2 separate regions of the Homo sapiens genome follow, and region 1 is linked to region 2. The links come from fine-mapping of genetic effects on plasma protein levels. A gene starts in region 2. The other region holds a variant in brackets. All regions are shown on one strand. Distances are between the middles of the regions.

The links. PIP is the posterior inclusion probability: the model's chance that the variant is causal. Protein levels are from antibody-based Olink assays in UK Biobank. Linkage for the fine-mapping came from a reference panel and not from the study's own genotypes, which makes the PIPs less certain.
Region 1: its variant is fine-mapped to the plasma level of the CTBS protein (UK Biobank, PIP above 0.99).

What each region holds. Positions count from the first base shown.
Region 1 is chr1:84,550,632-84,560,590 of GRCh38, forward strand. SPATA1 (spermatogenesis associated 1) reads left to right here. Exons shown (of 14, transcript NM_001397487.1): 13 at 5,279-5,348. CTBS (chitobiase) reads right to left here. Exons shown (of 7, transcript NM_004388.3): 7 at 1-4,568. The coding sequence ends at 4,368. Among named protein-coding and RNA genes, the nearest start is that of CTBS, 19 kb to the right of the region's middle. The variant GTTT/G (reference allele first, on the strand shown) is at 3,056.
Region 2 is chr1:84,568,185-84,578,308 of GRCh38, forward strand. CTBS (chitobiase) reads right to left here and starts at 6,256. Exons shown (of 7, transcript NM_004388.3): 1 at 6,055-6,256; 2 at 2,398-2,536; 3 at 1,747-1,955. The coding sequence starts at 6,231. It overlaps LOC105378819 (a long non-coding RNA gene), which reads left to right and starts at 9,832. Exons shown (of 2, transcript XR_947544.4): 1 at 9,832-9,951. RefSeq lists enhancers at 4,846-4,895, 5,609-5,708, 5,819-6,108 and a silencer at 6,269-6,388.

The DNA.
Region 1 (9,959 bases), 18 kb before region 2:
ATTGACTGTATTAAAATTGTTACCTTAACAGTAAAGAGCATAGGTGAAAAAAAAAATGCAGGAAGAAAAACTAAACCTGTGAAAAGATACATGATATAATAAAGCCAAAGTAAAATTTAGTAAAATTTTACTAGGAAGAATTAAAGGAAAAGGAACCTGTGAGTCAATATATTCTCAAAAAAAATTTTAAGTAGTTTTCCTGTATTAGAATTATTAAGTCTGATAAACCACTGAGCTCTCCTCTGAACTGACATTTAATTTTTTATGGGTAATCGTTTCATTTTTTCTGGTTATTTTCATATGTATTCTATTATTTAAATATGAATAATGTGTCTTCTACTAGATGTTAAGTTTCCTTCCTGGCAGAGACTATGCCTTAGTTAACTTTGTTTCTCCCATGGGACCTTTTGTATAGCAGATGCTTAGTAGAGGCTTCTGGGCATGCTCTATTTGGTGAGAATTGTGTACAACTAATTACATCATAGAAATTATCTGTGAAGTACATATGTATTAAAAAGCTTTTTTGTTGAACAGAAAACAGAAGATTATACATTTTCATACAAGTACCCACAGCAAGGCAGGAAAATGAGAACGATAATTATATGAATGCTCTCATTTCTTTATCAGAAACAGCTTTATGACACAGAATAATGACTGCATTCTAGAATTAGCTCTTTTTAAAAAAATTTTAAAAAGAAAAAAGAAAATCAGTACTGTCCTCGGTTTCAGATAAAAATAAAAATAAATAAAATTTAAAAATAAAAAAATAGAATTAGCACTGTCCAACAGAACTTATGTGATGATAGAAATGTTCTATGCCTGCACTGTCAGATTGGTACCCACTAGCCACCTATTGATATTGAGCACTTGAAATGTAGTTTGTGTGACTGAGGAACTGAATTTTAAATTTTATTTAATTTTAGTTAATTTAAGTTTAGTAGTTACATATGGCAACTGGCTTCTACTATACTGGACAGTGCAGTTCTAGATTCTTTTTACAAGCAGCATTCTCGAGGCTAAATAAGCCCTGGTTTGGCACTGAGAAGCTTAAAACTTAAAATAGAAAAGGAAAAGAGCAGAGGATAATTTTTAACAAAATATCAGTTAAATATGCACTCAAAAAATAATTTGTTCAATGAAGGAAAACTGTCTATTCAATATATGGAGATAAAGCCAATATGTAAACTTGTACACTTAATAATTGGGTAGGTAGGAAGGAGTAATAAAAATGCCCCCAGAGGCTTGGATTATGACTCCCCTCATGCTGTTTTCTTCTGGAAAGCATGCACATTACTTGTAATCTTTGTATATTTTAACATTACAAATGTCACTCATGGTTTGAACTCAAATTAGAATTGTTCATACAAAAACAGTAAGGACAAGTGGAATAAGAGGAAAAAAAGAGAACAAAGTTTTCAGCTTATAGGCTGGGGGGAAAAAATCCTGTATTTAACCATAGTGCCTGATTGACACATAACAGACATTATTTAAGAAGTTTTATTGATTTCTGAATGATCTCCCCAAAACAGCACTACCTATAAGATTCAGAACTAAGGGACAAAAAAAACCCAGCCTGAGTCTCTTGCAACCATATTTATTCAAGATAGTATAGCATAAGTAGTGCTTCTCAAAGTTTAATATATCATCTGAGGATCCTGTTTAAAAATGCAGGATCTGACTCAGTAGGTCTGGGTGCAGCCTGAGATTCTTCCTACCTAACAAGCTCCCAACTGATGCTAATGCTGCTGTCCACAGACAACACTTGGAATAGTAAGGGCTCTGGTACCAGGTGGTTTGAATTTGAATCCTGGCTGTACCCACTTCACTTACTAGTTTTTTATCTTGAGCAAGTTACTTAGCCTCTAAAGGTCTCCATTTCAACTGTAAAATGGGGATAAATACTAGTATCTGATTCTGTAAAATTTTTGAAAAAAAAATAAGAGACTAATACACTTAGAAGAGTGCTTGCCACAGAGTAAACACTATATTTCTGAAATATCTATTCCGTTCCTAAGGGCTAGGAATTAAGGGTTTTTTTTGTATTTTGTTTTCTTGTTGTTTTCACTATTTTCTTTACACATTGAGAACAACAGGTTTTGAAGTTTAAGCAAAACATAAAATTCTTTCTCACTCTAGTTTTTAGAACAGTTCAATTGTATTGTCCCTATCTACTCATAAACAAGGTTACCTTATAGCATATCTCACCAGTAGATAAGCATGCTTATTAAACAGCATTCATAATCTACACATTTACTGTAGTAATCCAGTGGGAGTTGAAAGCACTGAAGCCAAATGAGAGAAGACAGTTAAAGCGGTTACAAAAACCCTGTTTACATGACAACTATGATGTACTTTTAGAAGGGTATGATGAAGTTCATTTTTGAAAAGTAATTCTTTTTATAGATGAGAAAACAAGCAGTTTCAGATTTACGAACATTGAAAACTGAACTGGCACAGAAAAAAAAAATAATACATCTCTACAATCTCAATTAGGTATGTTAATTTAAAACTTTTATTTGTAAAAAAATTTAAATATGTATTTGAACAGATTTGTTTAACCATTATTCTCCTTGGCAATGTTTTATAAAAAGCACAAGGTTTCTCTTTCTCCACTTTCCATGTGGGTATTACAAAATGTTTCAGGAAATATTAGATGTAATATAAAGCAAAATGATGAATGGTTATTTTTAACATTCCAAGTCCTTTACATATTATTTTACAGTGCTAATTTTATAATTTTCATTTTAATAATTTAATAATAAAATTCAATAATAATTTATTTAACAATTTAAGAGCTAATATAACTAAAATCTATTTGCAAAGAATAAATGTATATTAATGAATACTAATATATTTGCATGAAAATACAGACTTCATTTAACTTAATTTGTTCATTATATCTTAATTAAAAGAAATCTGGAAATATAAAAGAATGGGGGTATTGAAGTTGCATTCTGAGCTATGATAGAGATAAGCATCTAAGAATTTAAATTTTTTAATTCATTTATTTTAGAAATATGAAGACAACAGTGATCCAACATATACTATGAAAATG[GTTT/G]TTACTCTGTCACAAACAATTGTGTAAATAGGAAATGTAATATTCTCATAACAGATGGTTCAATCATCATGTATTCCAATTTACAGGGGCAAAATGTGCAGGGAAGCCAGGATTTATGTAAATCTAGAGTTCAAAGATACAGATTTTTAATCTGTAATTAGGAACTAATAAGGGCAGCACAATGTTGTTCTTAATTCCCTGGAGAAAGAAAACAGACTTTATTACATTTAGAAAACTTATTTGTATAAAATTGATCTTTTAGAAAGAGAACTAGTTGAGAAGCTAATCAGTGTCTTTAGATCATTAAAAGCACAATGCAGCTCATGCCTGTAATCCCAGCTCTTTAGGAAGCCAAGGCAGGAGGAGTGCTTGAGCCCAGGAGTTGGAGACCCATCTGGACAACATAGCGAGACCCTGTCTCTACAAAAAATAAAAATAAAAAAGATACATTGCAGATGTAGAAAGAAAAATTTAACCATGTAAGCAAGCTAGCCAAGAAATAAATTATATATGTCCATAAATGAAGAAATGAATAATTAGAAGTGTGACAGTGAACAGAATCAAGTTCAACTGCAAGTTATTCCTATTATTAAAAATTTTACAAATGAGCCTCATAAAAATAATGTAGTTGGAAAATATTAGGTAGTTCTAACTTACCAATTCAAAATATTACTGTTACATTCTTCTATTTTGTGAATACATTTAATCTTCTGGATTCTTTTTAATTCTCACTCACTGTCCAAAGATTTAGTTCAAGTACCTCAGAGAACATAAATACTATATGGAGTCAGGAAGCAGAAAAATTATTTTCATCAGTTTGATGAACCTAAAGGGGAGACACTACATTGTAGGTTTTAAATTTAAGATTTATTGGAGGGTTGGGGGAAAAGTATAGCACAAACTGCTTTTCAAAGACTAGGTTTTTAAAAACTCTAAGCAAACAATTTCCACTTCAGATTATACATATTTTAAAAATCAGCATTGATTCGTGAGCATATATTTTACTATAATGAAGGGAAATATGGCATAATAAAATTCTGAAAGCAATTTTTCCCAATTAAATTATAGTGTTGAAACATCTAATAGAGGAATATTTAATAGGTAAGTTGACTTGCTTCTTGCCTTTATGTTCCTGGATACTGAGGACATTCGTGTGTATTTTTCAAATTCAAACAATCAAAACATTTATTTATTCTTTTTTTTTAGTATACGGATAACAAAAGTATATAGCAACATAATAAAAATGCAAGAAACTAGATCTGTTGATACAGATCATCTTTCTAACTCTTAATGGTTTGACAAAAGATGTTCATCTCTGTAACAGCTTTGGCTTTAAGACTTCCCACATTTCTTCAGTTTGCTGTTTGGCTACAGCATCTCCAGAGTAGTCAAGACAGTTTGCATTCCACATGCCAATGCCCCGTAAGCGATAGTTTTGTATATATGTTGCCTTTAAAGAAATACTCTGAGGGTTATCATACCATACTTGATGAAAGTGGCCAGCAGGATCCTATATAAATAAATTAAAATGGAGATTTTAAAGTATTTAGTACAATTCAGCACCACAGGAAAGGGAAAAATAAAAGAAGTATACAGTACAGTAAGAGGGAAAAAAGTTTCCTAAATCCAATTATTCAAAAAGGATACAATGAAATAAAAATTTTAGGGCATAACACTTTCCTATTCTATAATTCCATGGTTCTATATTTGATACAAATGGTCCCTGACTTACAATGGTTCAACTTACAATTTTTAGACTTTACGATGGATTTATCAGGGTATTTCGTTCATTTTCAACTTATCATATGTTTATGGGTTTATTAGGACACAATACAATCATAAATCAAGGAACATCTGTACTTTCTAGGTATTATTGCTTATGGCACTTTTAACAATGGCAAAGATTACAGAAACGAGCCTCCTAATAGATTCTACTTGAGCTCCTTTTCATGTCCTAAGATTCTTTCCTTGCCCTTAGCCAGTGATTATTAGCCAAGGCGTACATCTGAATCACTTGCGGAGCTTTTAAAATACAGATTCCTGGGTCCCACACCACATGAAACCTATTGAATCAGAATTCTCCAGGGTTAATGCTAGGGCATATATTTGTTTTGTGTTTTAATGTTTCATTAGATAATGCTGGTATGCAACCAAAGTTAAGGGGAATCAATGCTCTGGTCCTCTAAAACCAGCTTATGTGCTTTTTTGTATTCTCTGTAGTTGCTAGAAGTGTGCCTGGCTAGGAGGTCTACAGAAGATTTTGTTTATGATGAATCAGCCAAGTCAAAAGGTAATGGCAATGGAGGAGAAAAGTACATCCTTTTCTAGGTCTTACAGATACATTCTCAGAGTCTGTTAGGTCTGCACTTTATTGGTGACTTAACATACACCTGATTATGAGCCATAAATTAGATTCTGGTCTTATGTTCACCTTCCACCCTAAAAAGTCCTTCTGCCCAGAATCAACTACCTCTATCTAGTACTAACACAGTCTCTCTCAGGCAGCACATGAGCTATTGGATAAGAGACAAAGGAAAAGGGAAAGGAGCAGATCTAGGACAAAGTGCAAAGGAAGGTGAAAAAGATAGGAGATAAAAAATAGAAAGACCTGTGACTAAAAATAATTTACTTATTTTTATATACATCTAGGAAACTCCTTAAAGGCATTTCTGAATTAATGCCAGTAATATTTACAGCAGCACTCCTGGAATTAGAATAGTCTCTTAAGATGACCACTTTGGGGCCGGGCACGGTGTCTCAGGCCTGTAATACCAGCACTTTGGGAGGCCGAGGCAGGCAGATCATGAGGTCGAGAGATCGAGACCATCCTAGCCAACATGGTGAAACCCCATCTTTACTAAAATACAAAAAAATTAGCTGGGCTTGGTGGTGCATGCCTGTAGTCCCAGCTACTCTCGAGGCTGAGGCAGGAGAATTGCTTGAACCCAGGAGACGGAGGTTGCAGTAAGCTGAGATCACGCCACTGCACTCCAGCCTGGAGACAGAGCAAGACTCCGTCTCAAAAAAAAAAAAAAAAAAGACCACTTTGAAGGAAAATAATTCACCTGGTAAATGAATACACTGCGGCATATTTAAATATGGTAGACTAATTGTAATCAAGCATATCTCAGTCTGTATCTTATATTCCATTCTTTAACATTTTTAGAACTAGACAAAGCCATGCATGCCCTAGTAATAGTTGTGATTCATTATTAAAAGGCAACTTGTAGAACTTGTACTTAAATATGACAGATTATTGAAGATTCAGGGGCAAACCCAAAGACATATACCTTTGAATTTTGCCATCATTCTAGCTAGTACTTTGAGCCTTTTTGATATTATTAAGAAATTCAAATGTCTCAAAATTGTAAAGGAACAAAGGGCAAAAACTAAGCACATGTAAGACTAATTTATGCATGGTTAAGGCATATTTGCTTTCCAGAATATTGAGTCCAAGATGAGCTGCTATTGCTGAAACAGCCCAATAGAGTGATTCTCTTCAAATAAGACAGAAACTTGATTCATGTTGCTACAGAATTTTGCAATTAATAAAAAAGAGGGGGCCAGGCGCGATGGCTTACGCCTGTAATCCCAGCATTTTGGGAGGCCAAGATGGGTGAATCACCTGAGGTCAGGAGTTCAAGACCAGCCTGGCCAACATGGTGAAACCCTGCCTCTACTACAAATACAAAAATTAGCTGGGTGTGGTGATGCATGCCTGTAATCCCAGCTACTCAGGACGCTGAGGCAGGAGAATTGCTTGAACCTGGGAGGCGGAGGGCGCAGTCAGCCGAGATCGTGCCACTGCACTCCAGCCTGGGCGAAAAGAACAAAACTCCATCTCAAAAAAAAAAAAAAAAAAAAGAAAAAAAAAAAAAGAAGGAGGCTGGGCGCGGTGGCTCACACCTATAATCCCAGCCCTTTGGGAGGCCGAGATGGGCAGATCATGAGGTCAGGAGATCGAGACCATCCTGGCTAACACAGTGAAACCCCGTCTCTATTAAAAAAATACAAAAAAATTAGCCAGGCTTGGTGGCGGGCACCTGTAGTCCCAGCTACTTGGGAGGCTAAGGCAGGAGAATGGCGTGAACCCGGGAGGCGGAGCTTGCAGTGAGCCAAGATCGCGCCACTGCACACCAGCGTGGGCGACATAGTGAGACTCCATCTCAAAAAAAAAAAAAAGAGGAAGGAAACAGTTATAACTAGATTTTTTTCTAAAGTGGCATTAAATGGCCTTCAATGCGCACCAAAATGTTTCCTGAATTCTGAGACCTAAAGAATGTGTTTCTTCATAGAAACAGAGTAAAAAGGTGGTTACCAGAGGCTGGGGGTGGGAAGAATAGATATTTCAAGACACAAATTTTCAATTAGGAACAATAAATACAAGAAATCTACTGTATCCCGTGGTAACTATAGTTAATAACAATGTATTATGTTGAAAATTCCTAAGAGAATGGATTTTAAGTGTTCTTACCATTTAAAAAATGGTATGTGAGGTAATACATATGTTAAATAACTTGATTTAGCCATTTCACAATGTATAGATATATCAAAACATCATCTTCTACACCATAAATACAGATAATTTTTGCCTGCCATTAAACTTTTTTTTTTTTTTGAGACGGAGTCTCGCTCTGTCGCCCAGGCTGGAGTGCAGTGGCGGGATCTCGGCTCACTGCAAGCTCCGCCTCCCGGGTTCACGCCATTCTCCTGCCTCAGCCTCCCAAGTAGCTGGGACTACAGGCGCCCGCCACTACGCCCGGCTAATTTTTTTTGTATTTTTAGTAGAGACGGGGTTTCACCGTTTTAGCCGGGATGGTCTCGATCTCCTGACCTCGTGATCCGCCCGCCTCAGCCTCCCAAAGTGCTGGGATTACAGGCGTGAGCCACCGCGCCCGGCCACTTTTTTTTAATTAAAAAAAAAAAAGAGGCCAAGTGCAGTGGCTCACACCTGTAATCCCAGCATTTTGGGAGGCCAAGGTGGGAGAATCACTTGAGGCCAGGAGTTCAAGACCAGCCTGGGCAATATAGAAAGACCCCGTCTCTACAAAAAGTAAAAAAATCAGCCTGGCATGATGGCACACGCCTATGGTCCTAGCTACTTGGTAGGCTGAGGCAGGAGGATTGCTTGAGCCCAAGAGGTCAAGGCTGCAGTGAGCCATGATTGTGCCACTGCACTCCATCCTGGGTGACAGAGCAAAACCTCGTCTAAAAAAAAAGAAGAATGTGTTCCTGCATTTTCACATTCATTAAGGAAAAAACAAGCCACAGATTACTAAGGTCAGGATTACAAAGAAACAGTATATGGTAGTATATACTGTCCTAAGATTCTATGTTACATATTTTTAAATTACAGGCATACCTCATTTTATTGTACTTTGCTTTATTGTGCTTTGCAGACATTAAATTTTTTGCAAATTGAAGGTTTATGGCAACTCTATTGAACAAGTCTACTGGTGCCATTTTTCCAACAGCAAGTGCTCATTTTGTGTCTGTGTCACATTTTGGCAATTCTTAAAATATTCCAAACTTTTTCATTATTATTATTATATCTGTTATGATGATCTGCAATCAGTGGTCTTTGATGCTACTATTGTAATTGTTTGTGGGCACCATGAACTGCCCATATAAGACTTAATAACAATATTTGGCTAGGCGCGGTAGCTCACGCCTGTAATGCCAACACTTTGGAAGGCCGAGATGGGAGGATCACTTGAAGTCAGGAGTTTCAAACCAGCCTGGCCAACATGGTGAAACCACATCTCTACTAAAAATACAAAAAATTAGCCGGGCATGGTAGGGCATCCCTATAACCCCAGATATTTGGGAGGCTAAGGCACGAGACTCACTTACACCTAGGAGGCAGAGGTTGCAGTGAACTGAGATTGTGCCACTGCACTCCAGCCTGGGTGACGGAGCGATACTCCATCTCAGAAAAAAAAGACTTAATAACGATATTGAAATTAGACTAATAACCTTACAATGGGAATTTTGCAATGAATAAAAAAGAGGAAGAAAATAGTTATAATTAGATTGTTTTCTGAAGTGACATTAAATGGCCTTCAAGGCTCACCAAAATGTTTCCTGAATTCTAAGAGCTTAAACAATGTGTTGGCCAGGTGCAGTGGCCCATGCGTGTAATCCCAGGCCTTTGGGAGGCCAAGGTAGGCGGATCACTTGAGGTCAGGAGTTTGAGACCAGACTGGCCTACATAGTGAAACCCCATCTCTACTAAAAATATAAAAATTAGCCCGGCATAGTGGCGGGCACCTGTAATCCCACCTATGGGGGAAGCTGAGGAGTAGAATTGCTTGAACCCAGGAGGCAGAGGGTGCAGTGAACCCAGAGGGCGCCACTGCACTACAGCCTGGGCGACAGAGCAAGACTCTGTCTCAAAAAAAAAAAAAAAAAGAAAGAAAGAAAGAAAGAAAGAAAGAAAGAAAGGAAAGAAAGAAAGAAAGAGAAACTAGAATCCCTCTTCCCTAAAATGGGTCATAGAAACTAGAGCCTCTTTTCCCCAAAACCAGCCATAAAGTCTAAAAATGTTACTCTAACCTTTCCCACCACCACCTTTCTGTGTAATAGCTGGCCATAAAGAAATTAAGACCCTCATTCCAGAGAGGTCCTACCCCATACCCATGAGAAGAAATCCTTCACAGAGAGGCCAAGAAAAATCTGAACAGACAGTCCTTGCTGAGTTTTCCCACTCAGTCTGTTTGCATTAGCTCATGCCCTTTATTCTGATCACAGTTCTACATAGCTGTCCATACTTCGTTGAACCTAAGCACAAAAATGGACAGTTTTTCCTGTATCTTTGGGTTTTCATTCTGAAACCTCCCATGTCGGGTAAAATTATGATCAAACACATTTTAAAAGGCAGAGACCCCTTTCTTCAAATAAA
Region 2 (10,124 bases):
TTTGCTCAATCTCTTCCTCTCTGCTCTTTCACTACAGCTTAATCAGGATTGTCAAATAGGTTGTTTCCCATATATTCCACACATCAATTCTAACCTATTAGTAATCACTATCTAGAGAATGAAGGAAAAGTTTCTGAGGCCAAAATGTGTGAGGAGGAGAAGGGGTATTGTGGCCTGTATGCCAGGTATTTGCTGTTCTTAATCTACATTGTACTCTCCTGACAAGTTGAATTCCATACTGACAGATCTTCCCTATTTGCATAAAACCACAGAAATGTCAGTCGTCATATTGCTTATTATTTTACCAGTAATTCTCAAATTATTTTACCTGTAATTTTCAAATTCATGATGACCAACTCTACCAGAATCACCTAGGACACTTGGCAAAAATACAGTTCTCTAAGCTCTATCCCAGACCTACTGAGTCAATCTCAGTGATATGGTTTGGATCTGTGTCCCCGCCCAAATCTCATGTTGAATCGTAATCCCCAATGTTGGAGGTAGGGCCTGGTAGGAGGTAACTGGATTACAGGGGCAGATTTCCCCCTCCAGTGCTGTTCTCGTGATAGAGTTCTCACAAGATCTGATTGTTTAAAAGTGTGTGGCACCTCCCCACCCTCTCTCTTTCTCCTTCTCTGGCTGTTTGAAGTGCTGATCCCGCTTTGCCTTCCACCATGACTGTAAGTTTTCCTGAGGCCTCCCAAAAGCCAAGCAGATGTCAGCATTATGCTTCCTGTATAGCCTGCAGAACCGTGAGCCAATTAAACCTATTGTCTTTATAAATTACCCAGTCTCAGGTATTTCTTTATAGCAATGTGAGAACAAACTAATACACTCAGGATATTTTAAACAAGCACTCTCAGGTAATTCTGAGACAGGTTTAGGAATCACTGGTTTATAATACTCATAATGCTCTATACTGGAATACATTTTTAAGCATTCTGTTAGATATCAAGGAGCTGCACCCCGTCTTCAAAAAAACTCATTGTCTAGCCTATTACTTCTTAACTATAATCACCAATGAAACTTTTTTAAAATTGGGGGCTCTGGGATTACCCAAAACCTTTTGAAAAATCATTTCTGGGAGTGAGTTCACAGTGTGCATGTGTGTGGAAAAGTAAACACATGCTTACTTTTCCTTAAGACCTATGGTTATCTTGATATGTGGCCAAGTTTGAGGATCACTGATCTGGGTTCACATTATCCTCTGTTACCCATCTGTTGTCTGGCAAGATAGCTTGTGTTGTTACCTTCTGCTCTAATCATGTTCATTATGGCAGTGGGGAAGCACACTGCCTATTGTTATAGCTGTCACAGTTCTGTGTAGTTAGTCCTTTAAGCTTTACTGGGCCTTGGGTGCAAGTAATTCAGAGACTGTAGAGCAAGTGATACACTTCCCCAGAACTACCTCTACTCCTGGGTTGTTTCTGTCCTGCATTGGTAAAAGCTGGTTAGGCGCCCCCCTTGATTTTTGTTCTCCCATTGCCTAACACTTCTAACTGTGCTACAAGGCAAGTAGTGGGGGTAATCCCAGTGTTGTATTTTGCTGTGAATAGAGAATAGATTTAGGGCTTTAAAATTCCTTAAATAAGAACACCAAAGGCTCCAGAAAAATTTTTTAGGAAATAAGTGCTGAAACTCTTTCCCATTGCATTACTATAAAACAAAGATTATATTAGTTATACCCTCATGAGTATATTCTGATATGGAAAATATGAGGTTTCCAAAAAATAAATGAGTTTTTACCTGTGATCCCTCAATTTCACGATGGAAAGAGTCTGTAGTTTCTTTGACTAAAGCAGTTAATGCATCATATTCAGGTGATAAACAATTAACTTCTTGCTCTATATCTATATTAATTCCATCCATATATTGTGTTTTGGCCAAATTAAGTTTTTGAGCTATCCAGGATGCTCTGAAAGCAGGATCAATGATATCCTTTAAGGATACATCTCCTGTGGAAGAAGTATATATCTTTTGAACATGTATGCAAAAACATTTCATTATTTTGGAAGACTAAGCCCTTAACTGAAGTTTTCCAATGGAGAAAGAATATACCAAAGTAACAGAAAGCCATTACTCATGAATCTCCAAAATAACCATTATAAATCATTAGTAAAATTGTTCTGAAGTTAGAAACAGAAATTGTGGACTATGATTAAGTAAAGGTCATAAGGCTAATTTGGCAGTTAACATTTTGCTCAAAACCATACAGTGGTTTAATTCTTTTAAAAAGATCTGTGTTTGTGAAATGAATTACACAGTATCTAAGATTAATTATAGGATCCTAACAAAAACAGATAAACATAAAAGGACTTTTTTGGAAAGTCGGGACTATAGCAAGTGATACAGATAAATTTCCCAATTGCTGCACACATAGATCTGGAAACAACATACCTTTAAGTACTACTCTGGCTCCTTTTGAATGAGCGTAGCACATAAGTTCTGAGTCATATTTTCCAAATGTTGCCACAGTTGTAATCTGTGACCAATCATAAGATTTCCAAGTTTTCTGTCCAACATCAAACACAAAGACCTGCCAGAACAAAGATGAGCACCATCATTTAAACCAAGAATATTATGCTGACCGTCCAAAATACCGTTCATCAAACATCACCATACACCAAACACTATGGTGGCAGTGAGAGTACAAGTGCATAAGACATAGGGGTCCCAAGATAATTGGTGGCAGGGGTAATTAGCCAGGCTGGGAAAGAGGGGAAGGATGGGCCAGGAAGGAAGAGTGGCAAGTGCCAAGGCCTGGAGGCAGAGACAACATGGTGGTTGCGTAACTAAATATTTAGTATGGCCGACGTCTAGAATTTGGGGAGAGAGCATTAGTGAAGGACCAGAGAGTAGTAGGCATGGATTAAATCATGAAAGGCCTCATAAGCTCTGTTGAGAAGTTAGTACTACCTTGTTTATCCTGAGGTAAAGGGAGAGAATAAAAGCATTTTTAAAAGGGGAAGGTATGCATTTTAGAAAAATATTTTCAGCTGCAGTGGGAAAAGGATTAAAGAGACACCAAAACTGGAGGCAGAATACAGAAACTGTTGGAGGAATCCAAGTAAGAGATGATGGTGACCTCAACTAAAATTGTGGAGCAGTGGCGTTAAGTGAACAGATCTGGAAGATCCTAAGGAGGCAAAATTGACAGGACTTTGTGACTAATCGAATGAGTAATCAAAGGAGAGAAGTCTGATAATACTCAAGTTTCTGGCTACTGCAGATGGAGCCATAAATACATTTACTGTTTTTTGTTTGTTTGGTGAAGCTAGCTTCTTAGAATAGTACCTAGGTCAAATTCTAAGGCACCTGATGTTGTGTTTCTCTGATATTTTCTTCCCACAGTTAATTCAAGAAGCACAGAAGCCTCACTGATTATTTTTATTTTATTCCAAGGCATTAATTCATTGATTTGGCAAATATTTATTGAATTTCCAATAAGGTACAAGGAGAGTATTTTGCTAGGCTCTAAGGAGATAAAGATTAATGAGAGAGACCAGGTCCAGTAAGGAGTTAACTACTTAATTACAATGGTATTAAGGACTGTAGGGGTTACAGGGGGCCACGCCAGCATATAAAGGGGACCTGCTAGCCAGATGGTGCACGAAAACTTTTCTGAGGACTACACACTTTCGGAGTGGGCTGAAATCAGCAGAATGATGGAAGAGATATACCTATGGACAAAAGATTGCATTCTCAACTGAGGGAAGGGAAAGCCCAAAGGTCGCTACACCTCAGGAGAATTCTGAGATTCTGGAACTGAAAAAGGTCAATGTAGGTAGAGCACAGAAATCCTGCAAGTATGTGGAACTGGATAAAACCTTTAAAGTCGGTAGTGGAAAGATTAAGTAGGACTTCCAAGACCACTGAAGATGTTGTATTTTATCTTGGGATCAGTGGGAATCAATTAGAGTTTTAATTCAGGGGATATGCATTACAAAAGAGATCACTGGGTCCTTGTGAGGGGAATGAATGAGGGAGAGACAGTGGGGATAGCAGCTGTAAAAGTTAAACCAGGCATTTCTTAATTTTTTTTAATTTTTTTTAACTTTTCAGAATTAATTATGCATAACTCATTTTTTCTGCTAAGCAATTGCCTACTGAAATAATAAAAATTCATAATGTGAAATTAAGTGGCCCATTGTTTTCTGACTCATATTTCTATCAAAACTTCTATTTTAGTTCTGATAATTAAGATTCTATTTGTTTAAAAAATACTAAGAGCCTGTGATATAACAGATATCCTTAAAAAAAAAAAAAGCTGGGTGAACTAATTGAAAATATAAGGGGAAAATGCCATGTAGTCTAGTTTTTGTGTTTGAAAAACATAGAAAACGCCAGTAGAGAAAAAGACCATTTACCATGAAGATACAAATAAGCATAATTTTGCTTCTTTGAATAGTTGGTTTTCAAAGTGCCCACAGATATTGCCTAACCCACTAAGTATTGGGTACTACAGTAAATCTTTCAGGTTTTTTTTTTTTCTCTTTTTTGAGACATAGTCTTGCTCTGTCGCCCAGGCTGGAGTGCAGTGGCGTGATCTTGGCTAACTGCAACCTTCCGCCTCCCGCTCCGCCTCCCAGGTTCAAGCGGTTCTCCTGCCTCAGCCTCCCAAGTAGTTCGGATTACATGTGCCCGCCACCACGCCCAGCTAATTTTTGTATTTTTAGTAGAGACGGGGTTTCACCATGTTGGCCAGGCTGTTCTCGAATTCCTGACCTCAAGTGATCCACCCACCTTGGCCTCACAAAGTGCTTCTCAATCTCAAAAAGAGATTGAGAAAATTAAGAAATGTCTGGTTGAACTTTTACAGCTACTGTCCCCACTGCCTCTACCACCGCGCTGGGCCTCAGATTGTATAAAACATTTTAATTGGGAGGCCATTATGCTGAAACAGCTCCAACTGCCTTGGATTTCCTGCTTAAGCAAACTCCAGCCCAAGGTCAACAGTGAAAGGAAACTTAAGCTTAACCTATCAGAAACTGCCAACTAACCTCTAACTAGTAATTTTCCACCAAGTCATAGCTAAATAAGGCAAACAGTCATAGCCAACCAAGTAATTATTTTCCTTTGCTTCCCTGTTCGGCCTATAAAAGCCCATGCTACTAAAGCAGACCTCTCTGAACCCCTTCTGGTTTAAGTACTGCCGATTCATAAGTTGTTCTTTGCTCAAATAAAAAAGGTTATCCTACTTTGTCTGAAGTCTTTCTTTTAATAAGATGTTAGGTTTCCACACTAGGCAGGTTCTCCATAAACACTTTCACCATTTTTATTTCTTCTCCTAAGTCATGTATATATACTTTTTTACTGGCATCTAAGTGTTCTGCCTCAGATTAATGTACTAGATTAAGAACTAGGAATCATGCCTATTTCTACAAAAGAATCGTTCTTTGAATTAAGCCTTTGGACCTTCCTGATGTCATCCAATTCCTGCTTTCAGTCATCGAAGTGGGCAGTCAGGTGGTTTTAATATTGCTCCAGAAGGTGTTTGATTAAAGTTGCCAGAAGCCTTACAAATTGTTATGTAGATAGAAGGAAAATGTACTGAAAGCTATTTTTTTTACCACTCTTCATGGGTGGTTTTGAGGTACTTTAAAGGAAAGGGCTAGCAGGTATAGAAAACTAAAGGTAAGCAAAATACTCTGCATTCTAATGTACTGTTGGAGTGCTGAGATTCTTTCAAACGAAATCCTCGTTCCTTGGAAACATAAATGGATTATCCTACCTTGTTTGCTTTTTACACCCAGAGTGCTTCCGCAGAGGCACAGCAGGGGAATGAAAGGAGCTTGCCTTAGGAGGCAGATCTGGTTTGAACTCTCGCCTGCCTACGCAGGCACTTACAGGCTGTGAGGCCTGAGGAGTTACTCAACTTCTCTGAGCCCGAGCTTCCTCATCTATAAATTGAAGGATCCGTAAACAGGAAGGCCCTCATCGAGTGGTCAAAGCTGGTTTCGGCGCCCACGGCACCTCTCCTTAGGGCTCCGTTCTACCCTAACTTCTCTTCGTGCCCTGAAGCCCAGACCTAGAGGAGCAGAGGAAGGCGCTGACCTCGAAATCTGGATGGTGGCGAATCGGGCGGCAGAGCTCAGGCTCCGGGCATGGGCAGTCGGTCCCGGCCGCGAGCCGCAGCGCCAGCAGCGCCAGCAGCGCCAGCAGCGCTAGACCCGGGACGCCGCTCGGCGGGCTAGAGACGAGGCGCCAGCGTCGAAGCTGCGGCCGGGACATAGCAGCAGGTCTAGCGGGCCGGAGTGGGTTCCTACCGCCTGGGTGGGCGGGGCCTGCTGCGCGTCGGGGCAGGAAGGGGCGGGGAGAGTCGGGAAGGGCGGGGAGGGGCGGGAGGGGCGGGGCTCCGGGGCGGGCGTGGGAGGTCGGGCTTCGAGCGTCCCCGGGCGCTACAGGTGGGTGAAGTTAAGTGGCTGCTGGAGCGTCTCGGGGGACAGCCAGTGTCTGCGGCGCCGAGAGGGCCGTTCGTGGACTCAAATGGGTATCACCCCTACCGTTTATAGTCCTCCCAATAGTCTGCATCTCGTTTTGTCGTGGCTGGTCGTGTACTCCTTGTGGAGTCTGAAGGTACAAGGGGATCCCCAAAATGGAGAAGTGGGTGTCTTTGGAAGGGCCTACTGAGTAACATGGTTGGAGTGGCCAAAAGACTTTGTTTTTCTTTTGCTACTCAAAAGAAAGCTGGAATACCAAAAATTTTTACTTACGGATATCAGGTCTTAGTTAAGATCGTGGTTTGAATTCAAGCATCTAATTTTGCCTACTCTCCTGTTAAAAATCAAGTTTAACAACCTAAACACAAGGACAAAGAGATAACAGCAACAAAATGTTGGAAGCTGGAGAGCACAAGTATGAGTATGAGAGGTAAATCGGAAAAGGGGGAGATTAGTCAAAGGCTGCTCAAGGACTCTGATCGCTAGATCCTTTTTCCAGCTTCATGTCTCTGGGCAGCTGCCCCTCTTTCCCACCACGGGCTCCCACCCCGGCTGAATTCCCTGAAGGGGATAAATTCTCTGCTGAGTGGGTATTCCACCTAAAACGGAGAATAAGTGGCTTTATGCCTACTGAAAACTGAAACCCCTCGCTATCTGATTAACCTAAGAGGCTGAGCAAAGATACTGACATCGGGTTTTCTGGACAAATCATACACCCAGATCACCCTACAGTGAAATTCAAAGTTAAAAGCACCAGCTATCTACTTGGAGCTTCCTCTCTTTGTACTTTTTAATTTTTACTTTTAATCATGGACAGCAACCAAAAAAATCCAATAATGTAGAAAGAAGGGACCCAAACAACAGACAAAGGAATATGGAGGAAGCAGATGCTGCAGGGAGAACACTTTTAAAAATTCTCATAATAGCCCCAGAAAAATAAGAGAAGATGAAGCCACAACAGGGTGCAATAAAAGGGGTAGGGGATTTTTAAAAGTTAATAGAAATAAGAAAGAAGTGAAAAAACTATTAGTAGAAGATAACACTGAGGAATGTAGAGCAAAAACTCTGAAAGATAAGAAAATTGGAAAACGCAGTACAGAGGGGATGAAATAAATAATTCTTAAAGGTGCTTGAGAAGCAGCGTAGTACAAATAAGAAGAAATAAGTAATTTGGGCTGGGCACAGTGGTTCATGCTTGTAATCCCGGCACTGTGGGAGGCCGAGGTGGGCAGATCACTTGAGCTCAGGAGTTTGAGACCAGCCTGGCCAACATTGTGAAACCCCATCTCTACTAAAAATACAAAAATTATCTGGGCATGGTGGCAGACACCTGTAATCCCAGCTACTCGGAAGGCTGAGGCAGGAGAATCGCTTGAACCTGGGAGGTGGAGGTTGCAGAGATCACACCACTGCACTCCAGCCTCAGCAACAGAGTGAGACTCTGTCTCCAAAAAAAAAAAAAAAAAAGAAAAGAAAAGAAATAAGTAATTATCAAGGCTCCAGGACTGAAGAACACGCGTTTTCAGAATGAAAAGCTAGGCCAGGCACTGTGGCTCACACCTGCAATTGCATAACTTTGGCAGGCCAAGGCAGGAGGATTACTTGAGGGCAGGAGTTTGAGACCAGCCTGGGGAACATAGACCCTGTCTCTACAAAAAATAAAAAGCAAAAAATTAGCCCTGTGTGCCAGTGCGGTGGTAAAAGCTTGTAGTCCCAGCTGCTCGGGAGGCTGAGATGAGAGGATTGCTTGAAGCCGGGAGGTTGAGGCTGAAGTGAACTATGATCATGCCACTGCACTCCAGCCTGGGTGACAAAACAAGATCCTGTCTCAAAAAAAAAAAAAGTACAATTGAACCTCCATAACCAGAGGTTCCACATCCATGGTTTTAACCAATGTCAGATAACAGTATTTAAAAATAACAAATAATACAGCAATTTAAAAATGCAAATAAAAATACGGCAAGAGCACTGTCAACATAGCATTACATCGTATTATTATAATTAATCTAGAGATTATTTGAAGTACAGGAGGATGTGCATAGATTATGCCATTTTATATAAGGGACTTGAGCATCCATGGATTTTGGTATCTGGGAGTCCTGGAACCAATCCCTCATGATACTGAAATGTAACTATGTTTTTAACATGAATGGTTGCACTGAATCAAGTTTTCAAGGAAAAGAGCCTTCTGACTCATAGAATCAGACTGTATTCTGTGACACAGAAGAAAACACATATCTACCTGTGTTAGGGATCCCTAAGATCACCTCCAGGTTCAGTGATGCACTAAAAGAACTCATAGGACTCAGTTGTACTCACAGTTAAGATTTATTACAGCAGAAGAATATGAAGCAAAAGAGCAAAGGGAAAAAGTGCACAGGAAGAAGACAGGAGGAGGCCAAGCACAAGCATCACGTTGTAACATGTGTGAAGGGCTGTCTGCCATGGAAGCTCATTAGAGACTCAGGGAACAGCAGGAACACTCCCAAATCCACCTACAGGCCAACCTTCAGGAAGCAGGCCTTTCTAAAGATCGCAGTCTTAGGCCTGTTACGGTAACTCTTTTCTGCATACTAACCAAATGAGGAATTCCTACATATTTGTATTGAATTTTATATTGGTGCTGTACATTCTATGGGCTTTGACAAATGTATAATGATGTGTATCCAGCATTATAGTATCATACAGAATAGTTTCACTGCCCTCAAAATTATCTGTGCTCTACCTATTCATTCCTCTCTCCTTGCTAACCACTGGCATCCACAGATTTTTACACTGTCTCCATAGTTTTGCCTTTTCCAGAATGTCACATAGTTGGAATCTTACAGTATATAGCTTTTCAGATTGGCTTCCTTCACTTAGTAATACGCATTTATGGTTCCTCCATGTCCCTTCATGGCTTGATTGCTCATTTCTTTTTAGCACTGAATAATACTTCATTGTTGGGACGTACTACAGTTAATCCAATCCTGCAGCATCTGCTTCCTCCATATTCCTTTGTCTGTTGTTTGGGTCCCTTCCTTCTACATTATTGGATTTTCTTGGTTGCTGTCCATGATTAAAAGTAAAAATTAAAAAGTACAAAGAGAGGAAGCTCCAAGTAGATAGCTGGTGCTTTTAACTTTGAATTTCACTGTAGGGTGATCTGGGTGTATGATTTGTCCAGAAAACCACTGATGTATCTATTCACCTACTGAATGGATTTTGTGTTATCACTTTTTTGAATTTCACTGTAGGGTGATCTGGGTGTATGATTTGTCCAGAAAAACCCCTGATGTCAATATCCATTCACCTACTGAAGGACATCTTGGTTGCTTTCAAGTTTTGAAAATTATGAATAAAGCTGCTATAAACATTCATGTGCAAGTTTTGTGTTATCACTTTTTTTTTCCAGACAGGGTCTCTGTCACCCAGGCTAGAGTGCAGTGACTTGATCAAGCTCACAGCAGCCTCCATCTCCTGGGGTCCAGCAATCCTCGCACCTCAGCCTCCTGAGTAGCTAGGACTACAGGTACATGCCATCATGCCTGGCTTTTATGTATTTATTTATTTATTTTAGTAGAGGTGAGGTTTTGCTATGTTGCTCAGGCTGGTCTGGAACTCCTGTGCTCAAGGAGTCCTTCTGTCTTGGCCTTCCAATGTTCTGGAATTACAGGCATGAGCCACTGCGTCCAACCCTGTGTT